7 linked regions of the Homo sapiens genome follow. The protein of the gene in region 7 purifies or fractionates together with the protein of the main gene of each other region. This does not show direct contact. Each region holds a gene or a part of one and is shown on either strand. Other genes may lie near its edges. The genes, in order: PAAF1, FAM162A, MKS1, ZNF330, PAWR, HDHD5 and SSH3.

The links.
Region 1: the proteins of SSH3 (region 7) and PAAF1 fractionate together in Homo sapiens (co-fractionation; one large-scale study listed by BioGRID). This does not show direct contact.
Region 2: the proteins of SSH3 (region 7) and FAM162A purify together in Homo sapiens (affinity purification with mass spectrometry; one large-scale study listed by BioGRID and IntAct). This does not show direct contact.
Region 3: the proteins of SSH3 (region 7) and MKS1 purify together in Homo sapiens (affinity purification with mass spectrometry; 2 studies listed by BioGRID and IntAct, with this or other methods). This does not show direct contact.
Region 4: the proteins of SSH3 (region 7) and ZNF330 purify together in Homo sapiens (affinity purification with mass spectrometry; one large-scale study listed by BioGRID and IntAct). This does not show direct contact.
Region 5: the proteins of SSH3 (region 7) and PAWR fractionate together in Homo sapiens (co-fractionation; one large-scale study listed by BioGRID). This does not show direct contact.
Region 6: the proteins of SSH3 (region 7) and HDHD5 purify together in Homo sapiens (affinity purification with mass spectrometry, with the first as the bait; one large-scale study listed by BioGRID). This does not show direct contact.

What each region holds. Positions count from the first base shown.
Region 1 is NC_000011.10:73,893,999-73,897,498, reverse strand, and holds part of PAAF1 (proteasomal ATPase-associated factor 1), read right to left. Parts: intron 1-3,500. UniProt on the Homo sapiens protein: Inhibits proteasome 26S assembly and proteolytic activity by impairing the association of the 19S regulatory complex with the 20S core.
Region 2 is NC_000003.12:122,404,682-122,408,181, forward strand, and holds part of FAM162A (protein FAM162A), read left to right. Parts: intron 1-2,599; coding exon 2,600-2,708; intron 2,709-3,500. UniProt on the Homo sapiens protein: Proposed to be involved in regulation of apoptosis; the exact mechanism may differ between cell types/tissues.
Region 3 is NC_000017.11:58,204,941-58,207,098, forward strand, and holds the end of MKS1 (tectonic-like complex member MKS1), read right to left. Parts: coding exon 2,145-2,158; intron 1,608-2,144; coding exon 1,525-1,607; intron 1,441-1,524; coding exon 1,343-1,440; intron 1,231-1,342; coding exon 1,139-1,230; coding exon of another isoform or gene 1,050-1,138; 3' UTR 501-1,049; downstream 1-500. UniProt on the Homo sapiens protein: Component of the tectonic-like complex, a complex localized at the transition zone of primary cilia and acting as a barrier that prevents diffusion of transmembrane proteins between the cilia and plasma membranes.
Region 4 is NC_000004.12:141,223,895-141,227,394, reverse strand, and holds part of ZNF330 (zinc finger protein 330), read right to left. Parts: intron 2,909-3,500; coding exon 2,889-2,908; intron 2,789-2,888; coding exon 2,718-2,788; intron 629-2,717; coding exon 549-628; intron 1-548.
Region 5 is NC_000012.12:79,621,465-79,624,964, reverse strand, and holds part of PAWR (PRKC apoptosis WT1 regulator protein), read left to right. Parts: intron 1-3,500. UniProt on the Homo sapiens protein: Pro-apoptotic protein capable of selectively inducing apoptosis in cancer cells, sensitizing the cells to diverse apoptotic stimuli and causing regression of tumors in animal models.
Region 6 is NC_000022.11:17,139,649-17,142,277, forward strand, and holds part of HDHD5 (haloacid dehalogenase-like hydrolase domain-containing 5 isoform 2 precursor), read right to left. Parts: intron 2,561-2,629; coding exon of another isoform or gene 2,421-2,560; exon of another isoform or gene 1,749-2,420; coding exon of another isoform or gene 1,745-1,748; intron 1,586-1,744; coding exon 1,411-1,585; intron 1-1,410.
Region 7 is NC_000011.10:67,306,530-67,309,810, reverse strand, and holds part of SSH3 (protein phosphatase Slingshot homolog 3), read right to left. Parts: intron 2,974-3,281; coding exon 2,849-2,973; intron 2,770-2,848; coding exon 2,698-2,769; intron 2,441-2,697; coding exon 2,375-2,440; intron 2,263-2,374; coding exon 2,074-2,262; intron 1,966-2,073; coding exon 1,872-1,965; intron 1,638-1,871; coding exon 1,509-1,637; intron 1,400-1,508; coding exon 1,353-1,399; intron 415-1,352; coding exon 268-414; intron 44-267; coding exon 1-43. UniProt on the Homo sapiens protein: Protein phosphatase which may play a role in the regulation of actin filament dynamics. Can dephosphorylate and activate the actin binding/depolymerizing factor cofilin, which subsequently binds to actin filaments and stimulates their disassembly.

The sequences.
Region 1 (3,500 bases), 6.6 Mb from region 7:
ATGTGAGGAGCGTCTCTGCCCGGCCGCCCCGTCTGAGAAGTGAGGAGACCCTCTGCCTGGCAACCGCCCCGTCTGAGAAGTGAGGAGCCCCTCCGCCCAGCAGCCACCCCGTCTGAGAAGTGAGGAGCCCCTCCGCCCAGCAGCCACCCCGTCTGGGAAGTGAGGAGCGTCTCCGCCTGGCAGCCACCTCGTCCGGGAGGGAAGTGGGGGGGTCAGCCCCCCACACGGCCAGCCGCCCCGTCCGGGAGGGAGGTGGGGGGGGTCAGCCCCCCGCCCGGCCAGCCGCCCCGTCCGGGAGGGAGGTGGGGGGGTCAGCCCCCCGCACGGCCAGCCGCCCCGTCCGGGAGGTGAGGGGCGCCTCTGCCCGGCCGCCCCTACTGGGAAGTGAGGAGCCACTCTGCCCGGCCAGCCGCCCCGTCTGGGAGGTGAGGGGCGCCTCTGCCCGGCCGCCCCTACTGGGAAGTGAGGAGCCCCTCTGCCCGGCCAGCCGCCCCGTCCAGGAGGGAGGTGGGGGGGTCAGCCCCCCCGCCCGGCCAGCCGCCCCGTCGGGGAGGGAGGTCTGGGGGGTCAGCCCCCCCGTCCGGCCAGCCGCCCCGTCCGGGAGGTGAGGGGCGCCTCTGCCTGGCCGCGCCTACTGGGAAGTGAGGAGCCCCTCTGCCCGGCCACCACCCCGTCTGGGAGGTGTACCCAACAGCTCATTGAGAACGGGCCATGAGGACAATGGCGGTTTTGTAGAATAGAAAGGGGGGAAAGGTGGGGAAAAGATTGAGAATCGGATGGTTGCCGTGTCTGTGTAGAAAGAGGTAGACATGGGAGACTTTTCATTTTGTTCCGTACTAAGAAAAATTCTTCTGCCTTGGGATCCTGTTGATCGGTGACCTTACCCCCAACCCTGTGCTCTCTGAAACATGTGCTGTATCCACTCAGGGTTGAATGGATTAAGGGCGGTGCAAGATGTGCTTTGTTAAACAGATGCTTGAAGGCAGCATGCTCCTTAAGAGTCATCACCACTCCCTAATCTCAAGTACCCAGGGACACAAACACTGCGGAAGGCCGCAGGGTCCTCTGCCTAGGAAAACCAGAGACCTTTGTTCACTTGTTTATCTGCTGACCTTCTCTCCACTATTGTCCTGTGACCCTGCCAAATCCCCCTCTGCGAGAAACACCCAAGAATGATCAATAAAAAAAAAAATAAATAAAAAAGAAAAAAAGAAAAAAAGAAACATCGTAAAAAAAAAAAAAAAGAGTTCAGATATTTCCACATATACCTATATATAGGTATAGCTATAGAAAATATACAGATATAGATCTTTCAGAATAAAGAATAGAGAAATTTCAGATTCACTTTTTGTTTTCCAAACTCACTTTTATAGTTTTTGTGTTTTTTTTAAAGACAGGGTCTCACTCTGTTGCTCAGGCTGAAGTGCAGGGGCATGATTACAACTCACTACAGCCTTAGCCTCTCAGGAACAAGTGATCCTCCTGCCTGAGCTTCCCAATAGCTGAGATTACAAACATGGGCTGGCATGTCCAGCTAATTTTTTAACTTTTTTTTGGAGAGATGGGGTCCCCCTATGTTGCCCAGGGTGGTCTTGAACTCCTGGGCTCAAGCTATCCTTCTGCCTTGGCCTCCCAAAGTGCTAGGATCACAGGCGTGAGCCACCGCGCCCAGCCTCACTTTTGTAATTTCAGTATCAGCAATCACTTCATGCATAAGCCATTATCAGAATAACAAATCTTTTATACACATGCATACATGTACACTTTTATTAAAAAACAACCAGCTGCAAATGCTCCAGAAATGATGGACCAAGATATGCAATTCCAGACACATTCCCAGCAACAATAATTCCCACATAAGTTATTAAGAAAAAAGTAGGGACTTTGGCTTTAATTATCCAACTTTCCATTTTACTTTGTTCTATGTCAATTAAACCATAATAAATAAGTTTGGGAAGAACTATAGGGATATATCCATCAACTCTAACATTTTCTAAGACTTTTCTTCTTCATTTTGCTTCCTCGGAATAAAAGGACTGCTAACTTAGTAGTGGATCCTTTACTTGTAAGCAACATACTTCAGGTTCTGTCCTGATACAGGTGGTATCTATCCAATTGCTTGCTGGTAGGCAGTGAACACCTAGGCTAGACTGGAAACCTCAAACTGAACATGTCCAAAGAAAACTTTTATTTCCCCTGCCCCATCCCAATACAACTCCTCCTCCTCCAATTAGTAAATGGAACACAATTCACCTACTTCTCAGGCCAAAATTTTTTGAATCATCCCAACTCCTCCTTTTCTCTCATACTTAACATCCAAGTCATCAGCAAATCACGTCTAGTCCCACATCTCTAGCATGTAAGATCTATAAGGGCAGTTTTATTTATTTTATTCAGTATCCAGAAGACTGGCTGAAATATAGTAGGTGATTAATAAATGGATGAATCATCTTTCAGTAAGCTCAAATAAAAAGAGAATAAGAAATAGAAAAGGAGCACAGTTATGTTTGTTTTTGAGACATGGTCTCACTCTGTCACCCAGCCTGGAATGCAATGGCACAATCACAGCTCACTGCAGCCCTGACCTCCTAGGCTCAAGCAATCCTTCCATCCCAGCCTCTCGAGCAGCTGGGACTACAGGCACACACTACCACATCCAGCTAATTTTATTTTTTGAGACAGAGTCTTGCTCAGTAACACAGGCTGGAGTGCAGTGGCGCAACCTCGGCTCACTGCAACCTCTGCCTCCTGGGTTCAAGCGATTCTTGTGCCTTAGCCTCCGGAGTAGCTGGGATTACAGGCGTGTGCCACCATGCCCAGCTGATTTTTTTTTTATTTTTATTTTTTTTAGTAGATTTTTTTTTATTATTATACTTTAAGTTTTAGGGTACACGTGCACAATGTGCAGGTTAGTTACATATGTATACATGTGCCATGCTGGTGTGCTGCACCCATTAACTCGTCATTTAACATTAGGTACATCTCCTAATGCTATCCCTTCCCTCCGATTTTTATATTTTTAGTAGAGATGGGGTTTCATTATGTTGGCCAGGCTGGTCTTGAATTCCTGGCCTCAATTGATCTGCCCACCCCAGCCTCCCAAAGTGATGGGATTACAGGTGTGAGCCACTACAACCAGCCTATTTTGTTTATTTTTTTGTAGAGACAAGGTCTCACTATGTTGCCTAGGCTGGTCTCAAACTCCTGGGCTCAAGTGATCCTCCTGCCTTGGACTCCCAGAGTGCTGGGTACAGGCATGGGCCACTGTGCCTAGCCTGTAAATGATTTTTAAAATGACTTACTTCTCAAAAGGTGAGCGGCATTCCCAACTCTCCCAAGAGGTGAATTGCCTTCTCCCTCAGTTAAAGCAGAAAATAATAAAAAATGATGTATAAAGGCCAGGCACAGTGGCTTATACCTATAATCCCAGCATTTTGGGAAGCCAAGGAGAGAGGACTGCTTGAAGTCAGGAGTTTGAGACCAGCCTGGGCAACAGAGCA
Region 2 (3,500 bases), on a different chromosome or scaffold from region 7:
AGTACCATTGACAATGACTGTATTCCCCCAAATCCACTTAAGTACTCAACCTTAGGTGTAAAAGTATTTAATTGCAATATTCTGGAATTCAGGAAAGAGTGCTTCCTGTCACCAACTTCCTTAAACCTAAGGGAAGGGATCTTGGCTGGGATCATGGAACTTTTTCAGAGTTTGTAGATGATGAGTGCAGGTTCCTCCAACCCAGTTTCTCAACTCAGTACTATTGATATTTGGGGCTTGATAATGCTTTGTGGCAGGGGGGTGTCCTATTTGTTGGAAGATGTTTGGCAGCATCCCCGGCTTCTGCCCCCTACATGCCCGTAGCATTGCGGCAGTGCTGACAACCAGAAATGTCTCCAGACACTGCCAAATGTCCAAGGGGCACGAGCGGGGTGGGAATCTCCCCTGGTTGAGAACCAGTGCCCTAGCCTCATGTTAAAGACCCTGACTGGCTGGCATCTTGGCTAAAAAGAGATTCTGAGAAATAGATGTCATCTCCTCTGTGAGGCATCATCCTATTCAGGGACAGGGACTTCAGACAAAGCTCGTGGAAGTTCCCTGTCAGCAAGAAACTATTCCTGGATCTTCTGGTCTCTGGTTTCAAGTCATGATTGAAAAAGATCTGAGCTCATTCAGGATTTCTTTCCCAGGGAAATATGTAGTATTTACTTTCTGTTTACAACAGCTTTAATAGAGCTTTTCTGCTTCTGCCAGTCAAATTGATAGCACATTACTTTAACTAGAATTATTTCAGCAGGAAAGCCCTGGTTTTTCTTAGCTCAAGTCATGTATTCTTCTGGGAAATAAGAGAATACTGGAAATAACAGTGACATCAGGTTCTTGCCTATGCCCTAATTCTTCCTATACCAGCAGAAAATAAGCTGGTAGACACCCATGGCCTTAACAGATGCTGTATAGGCTTTGCTATAGAACACCTTCCTCAGTCTGCCTAATAGTTGGTTCCAAGATCCCCTCAGGCCCAAAATACTACCTCACGAATCACTCTGGAAGGGTCTTTTCTGGGCCTGGGCAGCCATTTGTCCTTGTGCTGGTAGTTCTGAACAGGCACTGCTTAACTTGCCCATTCCTATTACTCCCTATGGAATGGATTACTTTTCATGAGGATCATGGCACTTCAAATCCCATAAAATACCGTCAACATGGGAAGTCAGTTTGTGGTTAGTGGAATCTCAGGTGCTCCTAACTGACCAATTTGACAGTCCTTAGCAGTTGTCTTGGGTTCCTGCCAGCCTGCAGGCCCAGCTTAAGTGCCTGGAGAACCCCGTCCACATGCTGCCTCACAGGTCCCAGCTCCTACATCACATTGTACATGGCTTCATCATCTTCCTCCTTCCACCTGCAACATCCCAGACTCTTTGCCTCCTTCCAAGCATTTTTAAAGTACTCCCCTCCCCAATTTTAAAAGTAATATATGTTAAATATCTCAGGGGAAAGAAAGCACTTCAATCCCATCATCTAGAGATAATCACTTCCTATTTACACATCTACTGAGAAGGCCATAAGTTAATCCTGGGCCCCATAAGGGCTCCACATCCCCTGCCTTGAGGTTCTGCCAGACACCGAGGTAACAGAATCGTGACCACCAGGTGTGGCAATGCATGCCTATAGCCCCGGCTGCTCAGGAGGCTGAGGCAGGAGGATCGCTTCAGTCTAAGATTTTGAGTCAGCAACATGGTGAGACCCCATCTCTTTAAATAAAGTAAATTAAAAATAGAACCATGACTCACTGCCTACTTGCAAAATCACCAAGGTAGATTGGCCTTTAGACTCTTCTATATTAAGCCTCTTAGGTTTCACACAAGAATGATGAACCAACCATCAACTTTTTTTTAAGGCACATGGGTCTGTATTCAGTAGATAGGTTAGAAGAGCTGCACTTTGGCACTTGCCAAAGACCACAATATCAAGTTCACTGTCACTCAATTTTAGCAAAACATTTGTTTAAAAAGATAAATATTGAGGAGCATTGCTTAAAGGATCTTCCTACTATTTTAGATATTCTCAAATCTATTCTGGGTTCAAGACAGAGAGCAAAAAGCTGGGTATATGGAGCACATTGGTTAACTTTCTCCAATGTTTGATCATTCTGAATTGTGCTTTGTGTTGAAACATATGAAGCTTATTGTAGTATCTGTTGTCGAGATGTTTTCAGACGATGACTACATCACATAATGTCTTCTTAAGAACCTCAGGGAGAAATGACTGTTTCACTTCTAGCATTTATAGGCTGCTTGGAAACCTGAGAGCCAAAATTGGGGTCCACCATAGCAAGTGTAGATTAATATGCCTTGCCCATTTTTTTTTTTTGGCTTTGTTCTTGACTTCTCTTTTTGTTTTCTTCTTTTGTACTTAATTGTGTGCTATCCTGTATTTTATACATAAATGAGTTACGAAAAATGCCTCATCCTCCCCAAAGTCCTATGAGATCTCTAGGCCCTTTTTAAAGAGATCTCTAGGTCTCCCTATTTATATTTATAGACACTACTACATTTTGAATTTATACACAGCCTTTTATCCTGAGCAACTTCAGAAAGGGAAAAGTTAATAACTTTCTCTCATGATCTCATTGTATTACTAGGTTGGAGATGCTTGATGCTGCAAAGAACAAGATGCGAGTGAAGATCAGCTATCTAATGATTGCCCTGACGGTGGTAGGATGCATCTTCATGGTTATTGAGGGCAAGAAGGTGAGAAGGGGTTTCTTCTCTATCCAGTATGTATGTTCTCCACCAAGAACCTAGAGTAAATCAGGGATTGACCCTTGTATTTACCCTCTGAGAAGAGGAGGCTACTTTCTACATTACATGAGAAAAGATAAGCAAAAAAATAAGACATATTGGGAACAAGCCTGGAATATCATCCTTGGGGATAGATAGCAAATCCTAACTTTGGCGTGGTGAAGAAGGACTAGATTCATTTTGTGTAATGTAAATTTAAAAAGTGTTTCTGATGACAGGTGTCATAATGTAAATTAAGAAATAGGACACTGGCATATTTAATCACCCACTGCATATTTCCAGAGTGCTCTTGGTACCCAAGTGTATTTACCCTCACCATAACTGCCTTCAGCATGGTGAGCTTTCTTAGCGGGGTTCTTTATTTGAAGCTCAGCCAGACAGGGCCATGTGTCTAAGGACCACAGCTCCTAAGCAGTACATAGGAATACAAGTCCAGAAATCTTTAGCACAGATTATAATTAATAGCTATCACTAATTGAACACTCACTGCATTCCAGGTACTTTTCTAGCTGGTATCTCATCTGAACCTCACAAAAACACTGTAAGATAAGTATTATTAGGACCTGATTTATAGATGAGGAAAACTATAGCTTAGAAAGCTTTAGTAACTTGCCCAAGGCCACATATCTCCTTAATGACGAGCCACAGTGTGAACCTAGACCCAATTCAGGTAATAGGAAAATTCCTCCCATTTATTGAGTGCTTATTATGTAACAGGCACTGTTAAGCTCACTTAATCAC
Region 3 (2,158 bases), on a different chromosome or scaffold from region 7:
AATCAGCGCCACGTGCAAAGGCTTGGGAGCCAAGCCATGTGGTCTTGCACCCCAGGCAAGAAAAGTCAGCTGGAGGGTTTACAGCACTTTCTACTGTTTCCCAGCCCTCCCTCCCCTCCCTCACCATGACTAAGAGACCACTCGGTCCTAGCCTCCAGACACCCCACAATACTCCTCTGAGCCTGAGGCCAGGCAGCATGCTCTGCTTCTACCAATAAAGCACTGCTAAGGGCAGGGGCTGCTGTTTCTGTGTTGGGCTAGGGAAGACGTGGCCTCAGTTCCATGCTTTGCTCCAGATGTTTAAGAGAAGTGCTGTTAACACGCAAGCTGGCACAACCATCTAAGCCTCTCCTGGGGGCTGAATTAGGAGAGCCCAAAGAAACACTGTGGAGTAGGGAAAGGCAGAAAAGGGGAAGGGCAGACATGGTAGGGGCCCCGACATTAAGAACACCCTAGCCATACCAGCAACCTGAGCAGACAAACAGCCAACAGAACATCAGTCAAAATAAAAGGGGTTTATGTAACAAAAAACAAAAAAACAAACAAACAAAAAAACACAGTAAAAGATACCACCCAGCTAGCAGAAAGGACTCAGCACTGCCTTCAGCCTTCACTTACTCAGAAATAACTCATATCTCAACCTCAGCAAGCCCCAAGCAGTAGAATGAGGCTTCCCTGGAAAGAGGCTGAGACTCACAGGCTGGGGATTTAAGACCCTCTCACCGTCCACCTTCCTTCCTTCTTTGGTCTTGGAAGATGAAAGGCTCCATTTTTAAAGGGTGGAGAACAGCAGATCCCCTGCTACTGTGAGACAAGCCAGAAAAGTGAGTCAAGGCCAGACTCACTATGGGGTCACCCCAAACAGCTTCAGATCAAAAAGCCTGCCTTGCTGTGATGCCCATTGACAGTGGCTGCAAATATAAAGGGGGGGCCACAGGGTCTCTGGCTTTATTTCCACAGGGTAGGGAGAAGACCCTGCAGAAGGCTAGGCAGAGGGGCCAGCCGGGAATTTCCCAGCTTTTCTGGTTCTCAGCAGACCAACGTGGTCTCTAATCAGAAAGACGAAGAGGCAGGAGAGCACTGGCCTCAGATATCCCCCATCTTGTCCTCTTGCACTGTGGGCCAGGGCTGCTGTGAGCTAGGAGACCAGGGTTCCAGAGGGGCTCACTAGGTCCTGCGGGAGGCTTTCCCGGGCCTCCTGCATGCGGCGCCGGGCTCGACGGAAGGCCTCTGTAAGGAAAGGAGATATGCTATTTGGCTGCCATATGGTATTTCTCTCTGCACTGCAGAGAGAAACAGGCCCATGCTGACCTGGGGTGGCCAGCTGGGGGAGGGGACATACCTAGCACATTGTGAATGGAACTCTGCTGGCTGAACCCTTCCAGACGGTCCAACACACTCCGCATCCTTTTCTGAAGGGAGCTCGATTCCATGAAGGCCCTGCAGGGAGGCCAGCCACATGGTTACGGCTGTCTCCACCCCTCAGGGCTAAGGTGCCCTGAGGCAGAGGGCCAAGTCACTCACCTGGACTGCTGCAGACAGTGCAAGCGGAAGGTGACAGTGCCTGTGGTCTCTGTGCGGAGTCCAAAGCGGCTCAGGCGTTCCCCCTGTGGCATGCCATTGGGACAGCCTCAGGTTTCTGCTCTCTCTAGACACCCCCGCACCATGCTGGCCTCACCCCCATTCTTATTCCCATTCTTGGGAAGCGCAGTTCTGTTGGGGAAACCTTATTCCATCACCCAGACTCTATTACCTCAAGGCTAATACTGGGCTATTGGGCTCCCCCAACTAAACCAGGGAACATTCCAACCTCATTTGAGAAGCGGCGGTCTTATATGCTTACTGTGAATCCTCCCCACATCTGATTACTGAGGCCTTCAGTGATGGGGGAAAGAGCCAGTTATTCTGATGGGAACCAGGGGAAATCTCTAATTATACTATTTTCCAGAGACCTCCTACGATAGCAGTGTAGATATTGGAACCTGATTCAAAATGTGGTCATGACTTCCAGCTTAAGCCACAGGAAGGAAGGGGTTAATACTGAAGCAATGCACAACTAAGGGGTCTTGACCCAGATCCCACCTCCTACAGAAGGACAGGACCATAAGTTCTCAGCGTGAAGTCACTCCAAAGACAAAAGTCACCTTGAAGGATCCTG
Region 4 (3,500 bases), on a different chromosome or scaffold from region 7:
ACCAAACACCGCATGTTCTCACTCATAGGTGGGAACTGAACAATGAGAACACATGGACACAGGAAGGGGAACATCACACACCACAAACCGGGGACTGTTGTGGGGTGGGGGGATGGGGGAGGGATAGCATTAGGAGATATACCTAATGCTAAATGACGAGTTAATGGGTGCACCACACCAACATGGCACATGTATACATATGTAACAAACCTGCATGTTGTGCACATGTACCCTAAAACTTAAAGTATAATAATAATAATAAAATTTAAAAAAAAAAAGGTACCACTGAGAAATGAAATTCTGTTTAGATCAGCATGAAAAGTTTCCATGCCTTGTATGTTCCCTAATAAGAAAGAAAGAAGCAGCTAGAAACAAGTGGGTACTAAGGGAAAATCATACAAAAAGCATGCCACTCATAATCCAGATAACTACAGATTGATTGAAACAAGGGACAAAGCAATGATATTTAGAAAAAAATAACCACTGATCAGAATGACATTTTCTTATCCTTGAAAACGTACTAGTCTAAGAGATAATAAGAAGCTTACCACCATTGCAAGGCCAGTACTGTATACACCAGCATGCTTTATGACACAGTCTGAAGACTTCATCATGCACTTTGTTTTCCCTAATGAAGAAAAACATTTGCACTGTTAGTCTTGCAAAGGAATACATACCAGTACTCACGAATTCCTCCTTTTATCCAGCCCAAGTTCCTGAGGAAATAATTTAAAAACTAATGAAATTGAATCAGTATTTACTGCTTACATAACTAGAAAGAGAAAATGGATATAACTGAGACTTCATTACTCGAATCAGACTTTTCAGATTATACATTTACTAATAAATCTGTAAAATGAACTATACAATATATATGCTAATTTGTACTAAATCAGAAATTGCAGGTTATGCTTTGTAATCTAATGATCATTTTAACAGTTTAAAAACTTATCAATCTTCAGATTATTCAAAACAATTTTTAAAGGAATGCTTTTTATAACAAATTTTACATTTTATAATTCACAATAAAAACTGTGGTTTGAAGTTATTTCTTTCCACAGAATAATACCTCAAACCAAACCAAATAATGATTATGTAACTTATCGAGTTAATGTAATTTTATCCAAACATAAAAATTTACAACGAAGCCCCCAGTTAAACATTTTCCCAACAAAATTTTGAAATAGTGCCCAAATAAGCACAATAAACAATACGGTGATACAGCTACAAATCACCACACAGCCACTAAACCTCTGATCTAGAAGCAAATTAAATTACCAACTCAAAACACTATCAGGAAATTTGCTTATCAGATATTATGTGAGAGTTAATGATGACATTAATCATCCATCTGAGACTCCACAAAATGGAACACAAAAGAAACAATTTTCCGTTATCTTGATTTCCTAAGGAACAAAGTTAGTAGGAAATGGGAAGAGAAACTGGAAATGAGAGGCAGCAGCTACCCAACTGTTCCATGTCCAACACTAAGAATCAGTAAATGAGAAATGTATCCATCTAACAACACTACAAAATTTAAGCCCAGAGACACTGAAAATAGGGGTAAGTCCTAGCAAGAACTTACCTATTAATCTTCCACAAACTCTGTTTCCTCACTCTACATTCATTACTTTTTGCAAAACAAGGCTATGAAAACTACCATATGAGTGTTCCATATAGGCCAGTTTTCTCTTTTTCATTAATTGTGGAATTGAAAAGATCTTCTTTGAAAGCTAGAACTACATTAGAAATATTCAGGGATATAGCCCTAAACACTACTAACTTTCTGGAATATTATTACATATAAACACACTTAAATGAGCATACCCCAAATTGTTCTACCTGAAATTATTATTATTATCTCATAAATAAAAGCAATACTTGTTCATCAAAAGTTGGGGGGGGATGTAAATCTAGAGTAATAAAGTTAATTGGGTTTCTTTGTTGCAAGTCTTCAGAACTTCTAACATATAAATATATAATAGAAATCTCCCAGATGAGAATGAAAGGAGGATGCATGCAGTATTTCTCAAATGTATATCGATATATATTTTTCAAGAAATATCCATTAATATTTCAGGAAGTCTGTGGAAGACTATTTGGGAAACACCCATCTTGCTAACATTTAGTTTTATTTTGTATAATCATTTTGGGGTACAAGTCTCCACCTATACTTAAGAACCGGGCACATGACTTAAGAACTCTATTTAAATCACCTGGGAATACATGTGAGGAAACTCATGAATCATATGGTAAGCATCAAACACAAAAACTACTGATCACAAAATAAGTACCAGGTAAATGTGGAATAAAATTATTCCCAATGGTCTAACACACTGCAGGTAATATCAGCAGGAATCAAAATGTAGATAAGTAAACAAACAGATACTGACAAGACTAAGGTAGTATAACTAAAAGTTCAGGATCACCAAATGTTATGTCTGAAATCTGATCTTTCACTGTTTAAAAACACTTATTGGTAACCTGTATCTAAATTGTACCTTAATTATTTTCCAGCATTACATCAAAGAGACAAAACCAAGGCTTGATAGTTTTTTGGTAGGCAAAATAACATGTTTTGTTATTTTGTTAATGGTAAGGCATAATATTATCAACAATTGTAAGCACTGTAACCAATAGCAACAAACCCACCCAAGTTCAAATTGTTGAACTACCAGTTGATAAAAAGCATATGTCCTTAATTATTACAAACTTACCACACTGTGCACAAATTGGTAACTTCTGTACAGAATTACAAAAGTAGCAAAATGCTCTATTCTTCTGCCGCCTTGTCATGTAAAATAAAATTTTAAATTATGGTCAATGTCAGATAAAAAGTCAGAGGGACAATTTTATTAAAGGTAGATAGAAAAAGAAATAAAATTTACCTCTGACACTTGTCACATTCCTGTAACATATAAAAATATCACATTAATTTTTCTGCTGACTGAAAACTGCAAATTTACTTGTATTACAAAGAATAACCTGCTTTTCAGGTTAAAATTTAAGTGACACTACACCAAAGCCCCAACTCCACCCATGTATACAAGCACCTACCCATGCTTAAAATAACAAAGGTATGCGAGAGTGATACTCCGGGTATATGATTCCCTGAAGAAGTGGCATTATCACAAAGGAGGCTAAATACATTGGTAGTTTCTTTTTCAATTGTTTGTAAGGAATAAAATACCACAGAATGAACACAAGAACTATCCTTTTGATAGTTAAGTACATTCTAAGCCTTATGAAACGTTAAGCACATATTATTCCAAATGAAGTGGGTGACCCTTAAAATAATGCATTTATCTAAGGCACCGTTCCAAAGAGAATACAAAATAATAAAGTTCACAGAAAATCCAGATTCCTAAACATGGTTTTAAAAGCTCTCCACAATCTGGCCCCTAATCACTTTCCAAACCTTCTTGGCCTATTCTTTTTAGACTCAAGTCACTAATGGTCAGCCATTCTCCAAATATGTCTTATATTCTCTCTTCTCCATG
Region 5 (3,500 bases), on a different chromosome or scaffold from region 7:
ACCTTGTGAGCCAGCAATCCTAATACTAAGAATCTATCCAGGAAATCCATTGCATATATACAGAAACTATATATATAAGCCTTTCTAACACATTTTTCTTAGAGCGTGTAAAAAACCCAAATGTTCATCAATAAAGCTCTGATTAAAATATGGTAGGTACATCTATTTAATAAAATTATTATGCAGCTGAAGAAAGGAATGAGGAGAATCCACTTCTCTTAAGTATGGCAGATACAGGAATTCTCTTATTTCTCATGATTTCCGCCAACTTCTTCCTCCAGATGTATTTATCCCAGTTAGAAAAGATTGCTTAAGAATTTCTAGGATGCTTGTTATCAAAAGAACTGCACTGGTTGCTAGCAGAATTTTGGAGAGAAGTTGTGATTCATCAAGTAATCCTATACTAAAAGCTGCCTGGAACGTTAGATACATACTGTATCCACAGGGATACTATGTGTGATGAATAGGTTCCCAGTTCAGTGGATAGCAGTGTTGCCATGGGAAAGAGCATTCAGAATTTTAACTTCAGGTATCACAGTTCACCTTCCAGTTCATCTCCAAGATGATTTGTCTCATCTTGGTAACTCATTCATTGTTTTATGAAACATTTACCGAGTGTTTTGTTTCTTCCTTTCTTTTTTCTTTTAATATACTGGTAAGGGAGTCTAGTTGAGGGGGCAGGAGGAGGGAAAGTTAGTGTTGTGGGGCTGGGTCTCAGAAAATGAAAACAAAGACAAATAAAATAGCATCCCAGTGCTCTGGGAGTGCGTGGCTACCTGCCTCAACTTTTGCTTTCTGTTAATATTAATCTATGATAATTTAAGAATTCCAACTTTAAGCTAATGATGTTGGAGCCTAGGTGAGGGATTTTTGAGTCCATATGCTGGAGAATAAGTGATGATTGCTTTCACACAGTAGAAGACTAGAGATGAGACCATTCTTTATTCTTTTCCAGATCTCATACTTTTGCTTCTCCTACTGTTCATTAAATGATTGACCTCTCCTCCCCCTTTTAAAGCAACTCCTTGATTTAAAATGCCTTTTATGCTATTTTATTCTTTCTGTTCTAGGACCTCTATCAGGTATTTTTGTTATTGTAGTTTTATACATTTTAACATTAACTAGAGTGTTTGGTCATACCTCTTTTTTAAAAAAGTAATTTTTTTGATATCTTATGTATTTTTTCTTCCAGATGATGCACCACTACTTTCCAAATAAATTTCTTCATGATTTTGATTGGAATTTTAATTTATGTGTTAAGAGACTGTTGACACCTTCACAATACTAGATTTTTCTTAAGAGCAGGTTTTAATTTGTATTCTTCAGTAAAGTCTTATAGCTTTTTTCATGCACGTACTGTTTTTTAGTTTTTTAATGGTTGTTACTAAAAATTTTGTAACTGGCTATTGATGTTACTTTGGGAAATTTTTTGCTTATTTACTGAAAAAAATCTTAACTCATAATTCTAAAATGTTTTTGTTTTTTACAAAATCATTTCCTCTGATGGTAATTTTGCCTCCTTTCTAATGTTAAAATCGCCTATTCTTCTTACCTAGTTCTATCAACTAGCACTTTCAGAATGATGTTAACAATTATGTTAATAGTGGACATCAATGTCTTGAGTCTGATTTTACTTTAAATTTTGCTGGTATGTTGTCATTAAACAAGATATTGTCTAGTGATTTGAGAAAGTTTTTGAAAGTCCTGAGAGAGATTTTTTTTTTCTAATAAGGACTAATTTCTTAACACTTTGGTGTCCCATACCAGATTTCTTTCACTGACTCTGTTTCCACCTATGATATATCATTTTTCATAGGATACAATTGCCTATGTCATTTAACTAGTCACTTAACTAGTCTTTTCACTTTTGGTCTTGTTCCTGTTCTCTGCATTGCTATTTCCAGGTTCTTCCCAAAAAGAATTTTGATCATTCCTTATCCCAAGGAACTGTATAGCATTGTAACATCATTCCAAGCTATGGAGTGAGAAGTCTAAACTTCTTGGGTTATCTATTATTTATGTTCCCTCTATGCCTTTCGAGTCCTCACTTTTGTCAAAAACTGTAATGGCTTTGAGATCATACCCCACTTGCTGGCTAACACGTTAGCTTGTGTATGCTGGCAAAAGATACTAGTCTCCTGGGTTAGTTAGAGTCAAGAACAGTTTAGACTCAGCAATAACAGTAGCTACAGTATCATAATTTTCTTGTGCTGTTTCCCCAAGCCCCACTCTTGGCAGGTTGATATGACAAGGGCCAGGTGACACCAAATCTCAACCTGCATGCTCCTTTCATTTGCCCTTTCCATTTCTGTCCTCAGACTTCTCTGTATCATCCTAATGTTGTAAGACTCCATCTCAGCTAGAAACCATCATTCTGAGCAAACTATCACAAGGACAGAAAACCAATCACTGCATATTCTCACTCGTAGGTGGGAATTGAACAATGAGAACACTTGGACACAGGGTGAGGAACATCACACTCTGGGACCTGTCGTGGGGTTGGGGGAGAGGGGAGGGATAGCGTTAGGAGATACACCTAATGTAAATGACGAGTTAACGGGTGCAGCACACCAACATGGCACATGTATACATGTGTAACAAACCTGCACATTGTGCACATGTACCCTACAACTTAAAGTATAATAATAATAAAAAATAATAAAAAACACTCCATCTCAGACAGATGCTTTCTTCCATGTCCTCCATTGTAGACCTTGTCTTTATCAAGCTTGGTACCCCTTTCAGTATGTTCCTCCTATCTCCAAATATTCCAGTGCACCTTCTTGGTTTGCACAATGGCTTCAGTGTTTTCTTCTCTCTGCACAACTTTTTTTTTTTGTCCAATTCCTATTGTCTTCACTGCCATACTGTTATACTTTGCTGTGATCAGTTCCTTAGTGTCTCTACAAAGAGGTGTGTGGTTTTTTTTGTTTTTGTTTTTGTTTGTTTATTTGTTTTTGTCTGGAGGGGGTGTGAGTTCTCATGCAGAAACCTTTAGGGCAGTGTATTGGTTAGGAATGTATTCAGTTGCAAGGAACGGATAACCCAGCCCATGATGTGTATAATGGATAGAGATTTGTTTCTATTTTGTTTTTCTTATGTAGAAAGTGTAGAGTTAGATAATTTCTAGTGTTGCTTCTGTTTTTTAGCAGCCTTCTCTTGTAAGCTTTTCCAATATGCTGTTACATGTGTAATTCTCTTTTTTTATATATCTGCAATTCCAAATTGTAGCCATTCTTTAAATTACAAGATTTTTTATAGTCTTTTCTAACTCTCCAGGTAAAAATACTCTTCCTTTATATGCTCATAGAATATAAAGCTAGAAACTGGGCCTTTATCACTAAGTTATCTATCTATCTATATATATGTATTATCTTTCCTACTAGATTATAAATTCCATTTCTTTAATGCATCCTTTGTTACCTTCTGCAGAATGCCTTGTTTAAGGTAGACGTAGTTTACTTATTGAATGAATGATAAAGAATGAATAAACCTTTCCT
Region 6 (2,629 bases), on a different chromosome or scaffold from region 7:
CTGCAACCTCCACCCCCTGGGTTCAAGTGATTCTCCTGCCTCAGCCTCCGAGTAGCTGGGATTACAGGCACCTGCCACCATGCCCGGCTAATTTTTATATTTTTAGTAGAGACGGGGTTTTGCCATGTTGGCCAGGCTGATCTTGAACTGACCTCAGGTGATCCACCCACCTCGGCCTCCCGAAGTGTTGGGATTACAAGCATGAGCCACCACATCTTTCAGTGTCATTTATGTAAATAATTCTACTTTTAATTAGAAAAGTTCATCTAAAATCTGGTTTGTAAATTGAAATCTGCCCCTTGCTTTTCAGTTCACAGAGACATAACCAACCAAGCCCACTGATCTAGTGTCAGCATACCCGCCTCTAGGAATAATACTTCAGAGACAATGCCAAGCCTCGAGCCACAGACATACACTTTAAAAGTGACAAGAGCATACCATACCCCGTCTCTCTGGGACTACTGAGACGGGCCCTGAGGCAGTACTGGGCCGTGCCCACCCTCTGCTGACGAGCACTGTCGACTGGGGGTCAACAGCAGGCTGAGACTCAAGAGACTGGCCATGCAGATAACAGCAACCGAACAGTACACAGCAGCTGTCAGCTGGCCTTCAAGTAAGCACCCTGAGGCCAAAAAAGGGCTGCCTCTATCTGTGCTAGCCCCAGAATAAGACAGGACACATGACACCAACACAGCTGAGCAGGGAGTATAGGCACCTGCATGCCCCTGAGAAAGCCACTTATCTGCTGGGTCTCAGTTCTCTGGTCTATACGACTATCAGAACAATCCTTGGCCGGCATGATGGAGCACGCCTGTAATCCCGGCACTTTTGGAGGCTGAGGCACGGGGGTCACTTGAGGCCAGGAGTTCAAGGCTGCAGTGAGCTATGACTGCACCACTGCACTCCAGCCTGGATGAGAGAGTGAGACACTGTCCCCGCAAAAAAAACAAAACAAACAAAAAACGACAAATCCTTGCTTCCTCCTGCCTTATGTCTGAAGGGTAAAAGGAAACCAGAAAGTCAAAGAACCAATGCTACAGGATGGAGCCAAGGAAGGAAGAGCAACTGAATAATGTGCACAGATACGGTACAAAAAGTGCCCACGGTTTGGGATCCACCAGACACCAAGAGCATGTTCTGTAAAGATTACAGGGGGCAGGGGTCACGTGTGAAACATCCTCTCAATACATCCTCAGACTCCATAATCTGTAGTTTAGGTTTAGTAACTAATATGTGGAGTGGTCCTTGAAAGCCCTTCCAAAGGCCAGGTTACTGCAGCAACAACAGGGCCTACCTAAGTGAGGTCCCGGCACCTGGGGTGTCAGGACGGATGGGAACTGCCTGCAGGACTGCCCAGGCAGCAGCCAGGAATAGACCACCAGGCCAAGGCTGGGAGCTTTGTGTCCTCACCTGGGCATCTTGGCTTCAGCCATCCACAGGAGATCCATGTTGCTGGCTAGGACGGGGAGGTGGGGGTAGGGGGGTGTTGCCAGGCCAGCCCCAGGGCTCCCATTGCTGAGGAGGACATCCATGATCAGCTGCAGGCTGGTCTCCCAGCGGACCGGCTCCCCTAGGAGGAGCACCCCTTTAAAGAACAGAGGCGCAGGTGAGGGCTGCAGGGCAGATGGCAGGCGGCAGGCCCTCAGGATGCCAGCTAGGGCTACCCATCCACAAGCCCTCCACCCATGGTGCACCCAGCTGGGCAGGGGCACAGCTCCCCAACAAGCCCAGTAGAGCCCCTTACCCATCCACCCTGGGTGCACAAGGCCCAGGGCCCAGGAAGGAGATTCCTGAGGGCTCCCATTCTGACTTCAGTCCACCAGTGCTTCACAGAAGAGGTTACAAAACAAAAGCAGCATGTCTCAGGGCTACTTCTCCTTGCTGGCTGGGACTCTGCCACCACATTCTCCCTCACATGACTTAGCAAGGGCTCCTGTTCCCTCAGTCGCTTCTCTCTGAGCCCCAGGGACTGGCAGAACCTAACAGCCAGGACAGGGGGTGTGGAGTGATAGAGACTTGAAACCCAACCTGGACTCCACCGATTCTCCTGTATGACTGTGGCCAAGTAACTTCTCTTCTCTAAGCCTCAGTTTCCTCAACTGCAACTACATAACAGCAACAGCACTTAGCTATTGTGAGGATAAAAATGAGCTACATCATCGGTAAACAGCCCAGGACTAGACACACAGTAAGCACTAGGCAAAGAACACTGCTGACACTAAGGTACAGGGCCGGTGAACTGCACCAGACCAGTGATTCTCCATGGGGCAGCACCGCCCCTGCTGAGGTGCTTTACAAATCAGAGGCAATTTTAGTTGTCACAATGACTAGAACCTAGCAAGTGAAGGTTGTGGGAGGGGGCCAGGGACGCTACATACTCAGGACAATCCTGTGCAATCAAAAACTATCCCACACTAAAATTAATTTTTAAAAAAACCATCCCATGGCTGCGTGCGGTGGCTTGTGTCTGTAATTCCAGCACTTTGGGAGGCCAAGGTGGTAGGATTGCTTGAGCTCAGGAGTTTGAGACCAGCCTGGGCAACATAGTGAGAGCCCGTCTCTACAAAACAACAAGAAGAAAAAGAAAAAACTTTCCCATGTCCTCATAACATTTGAATGTCCCACCTGA
Region 7 (3,281 bases):
GACGCCCATCTTGCAGTGGACCAGCACGTGGGTGCCCTGTGCTCTGTGGAAGCAGGCCAGGTTCAGCACCCTCCCCTCACCATGAAGGATCCCGCCTCCTGCAGGGGAGGGCAGGTGAAGGGCTCACAACCAACTGAGAGTAGAGAAGGAGGGAAGGACACTGAGGGCTGGAAGGAATGGCACAGCTGATGGCAGAGTGGGCAGGAGGAGGGCACCGGAGGCCGCTTGAAGCCACAGTGGGGCAGGCAGCAAAGCCAGGAGACCGACCTTGCAGCCTCAATGAAGCGGTGCGTCTCCTTCCAGTGCGGCAGCAGCTGGGCCGACTCCTCATCCCAGAGGCGCACATTGTGGTAGGTGAAGCGCTCAGGGTAGAAGTTGTCAATCTCCCGGGCCATGTTCAAGATGTGGGTGACCCTGTCCCAGAGGGCCCAAGGCCAGGCTGATGTGGGCAGAGGTACCAGGCCCACTGGCAATCGGACCTGGCAGCCCCTGGGCCTCGCTTTAGCTCTGAGTTTCAAGTCAGATGGAGGCAGCAGTGACAGTGGGAGGAGAAGTGACCCAGCTGTCACCTGGCTGCGACCTTAGACCAATCATCTTGCCCTGCTGGGCTTGTTTCCCCATCTGGTCCAGACAGCTGGGCCAACTGCAACTCCAGCCCTTCAGTTATTCTCAGAAATGAGTTAGAGAACAGCTTTTGAGCTAAGCTGAGAGTGGGTGGGTCTGCAGCAGTGGGTGGCAGGGGCTACAGCAGGTCCCAGAAGCCCATGGTGGGCAGATGACAGGTACCTGTCAGAGCAGGCAGCCAGGTCCCCACGGGGAGAAGGGCAGTTCCTTCTTCCCTGAGACAGGGCAAGGTGGAGAAAAGGCTTTTTCTCTCTTTCTTTTTTCTTATTTTTTAGAGACAGGGTCTCTCTCTGTTGCCCAGGCTGGAGTGCAGTGGCGTGATCACGGCTCACTGCGGCCTCAATCTCCAGGGCTCAAGCGATCCTCCTGCCTCAGCCTCCCAAGTAGCTGGGCCCACAGGCGCATTCAAGAGGAGCCTTTTTCTGCTTGTCCAAGGCAGTTACAGCAGTATGCGCTGCTGCTTCTCGTCTTGGCGTGGCTGAGGCCCTTTGTTTCTGTCCTTGTTTCACAGTGTGGATGGGGGAGGAGAGTGGGCGGGGGCTGGCCAGCAGGTCTCCTGTCCCCACCTGGGAGCCCACACCAGGGCAACAGCCCCAGGACAGAGTTAGAAGCAGAGCTAGCAGCTGCTGAGGGTGGTCCAGGGGTTTTTGAAGCTGGCTACCACCCAATGCGGGGAGGCCAGGAGAAGGGAAGATGGGGTGGGTGGCCCGAGGGGCTCATAGCCCTACCTGTTCCTCTGCAGCTCCTCCAGGTTTGCTGCGTTCCACTCTGAGCCCTGGGAGAGAGGGAACAGCACATTTCTCCTCTCCTCCAGCCTCTGCTCCTGGCCTGCCGCCCTCACAGCTGCCAGCGGTCCCCATGGCCCAGGCCTGGCTGAAGCTCACCAGGTAGAGGTGGGGGAAGATGCGGGAGGCTCGGTCCCGCTGTGCCACCAGCAGCAGCATCTGGTTGTCGATGAAGTCACGGTACTGCTGGAGGGGGAGCCCCAGGCGCAGCTCCAGAGCCTGGCGGATCTGCAGGCAGAGCCCAGGGCAAGAGAGGCTGGGGCTCTCCTAGTGCCCAACCTGCCACCTTCCCTCTGGGACCTCTGAGGACAGCACCCTATCCCATCTAGATGGATTAGGGCCAAGGCCAAGGCATCCAGGAATGGCTCAGGACTGGAGACAGGCAAGGTGGGGAGGGCTCCCAGGAAAGGCAAGCTTGCAGCCCCTGCTAGAGGGGACTCAGTCCCCGGGCCCCCTGCCCACCTCTTTGGAAGTGACACTCTCCAGGTCACTGACATCCAACACTTTCCACAGCTCAGCACGGATCGCCTGCTCCATCTGCTCCTGTTCTGAGGACCTGGGAGCAGAGCCCCTCAGTCAAGGGGCCCTTTCCCCTCTCCACCATGCCCCCCACTGCATTATCCTGCCTTCCCCTCCACCCAGTCCCTCCCCTCCACACACTGACCCGCCAGGCTCGGCGCTGGGAGGCCGCAGAGACTCCAGGTCGGCCATAGCCGTCCACTCATTGAGGCAGCTCTGTTCGGAGTTCAGTCTCTCCTGGTAGTGGCTGGCCCAGGTGAGGGCACTGCCACCCGGTACAAGGCCGCTGCCTAGAGCTGCCTCACATGCTTGGTGCAATACCTGGAGTGTGGCCCTGAGACAGGAGGAGAGGCTGGGTCACACTGTTCCCTTGCTGCCCTTCCCCAGGCCCTGCAGCCTCCTTCGAAGGAGAGGCTGGCCTGAGTCCAGGCAGTCTCTGTCCTTACCACATGGTCTGGATGGAGATGGGCTTGAAGATCCGGCTTTGCCCACCAGACGTCACGCTGAAGCCCCTGCAGGAGACCAGGCACAGGTGAGGCCAGACTCCAGGCTCTGCGACAGAGAACCCATCCTTTTGCTGGATACGGGAAGCCGAGACCCAGGAGTCAGGTGCCTTGCTCAGGATCACGGTGAATCTGACGTGGAGCTGGGAGCAGGCCCCAGAGTCCCAGCCTAAAGTTCTACTGTACCCTGGTGCCCAGGCCCCGTCACATCCGTCACACTCAGTTATTCCACCCTCCAGCCCCCACCTCCAGTTGCCATTGCTTACCCGTCTCCATCTAAGTACACCTGGGTGTCACTCCAGAGGGGCAAGACCAGGCCCAGGGTGCAGCTGGGGGAGCTGGCAGGGGACAGAGGGAAAGCCATTGTCCCCCCTGTCCCTCACCTCTTTGCCCCTCCTTTCCTCTCCCTGCTCGAACCTGCTGTCAGGGAAATCCACGCCCAGGAGGACCGTCTCATCCTGGCTCAGACCTTCTCCTTCTCGTGTAGAAACTACCAGCAGGTAGCGGAGCCGGGGAGGCCGGGGTGCCTCCAGCTGGGCTGCCTGGGGGGAGATGAGGAACCCAGGGTCACAGTGGCCCCAAGGACCCTGCTCCCCACCTAGACACCCCAGGCCCAGAACAGTGCTGACCCTGCTCCTTCCTCTCCCATCCCCCCTCTTCCCAGATGTAAAATCAGTGGGTAAAGAGGGACTGTGTGGAAAAAAGCGGGGAATGGGACTGACATAGGTTGCACATTTTTTGTTTCTGCTGAGGAAGGAGGTTGTTTTTGTTTTTGTTTTGAGATAGGGTCTCACTCTGTCGCCCAGGCTGGAGTACAGTGGCACCATCACAGCTCACTGTAGCCCCGAAC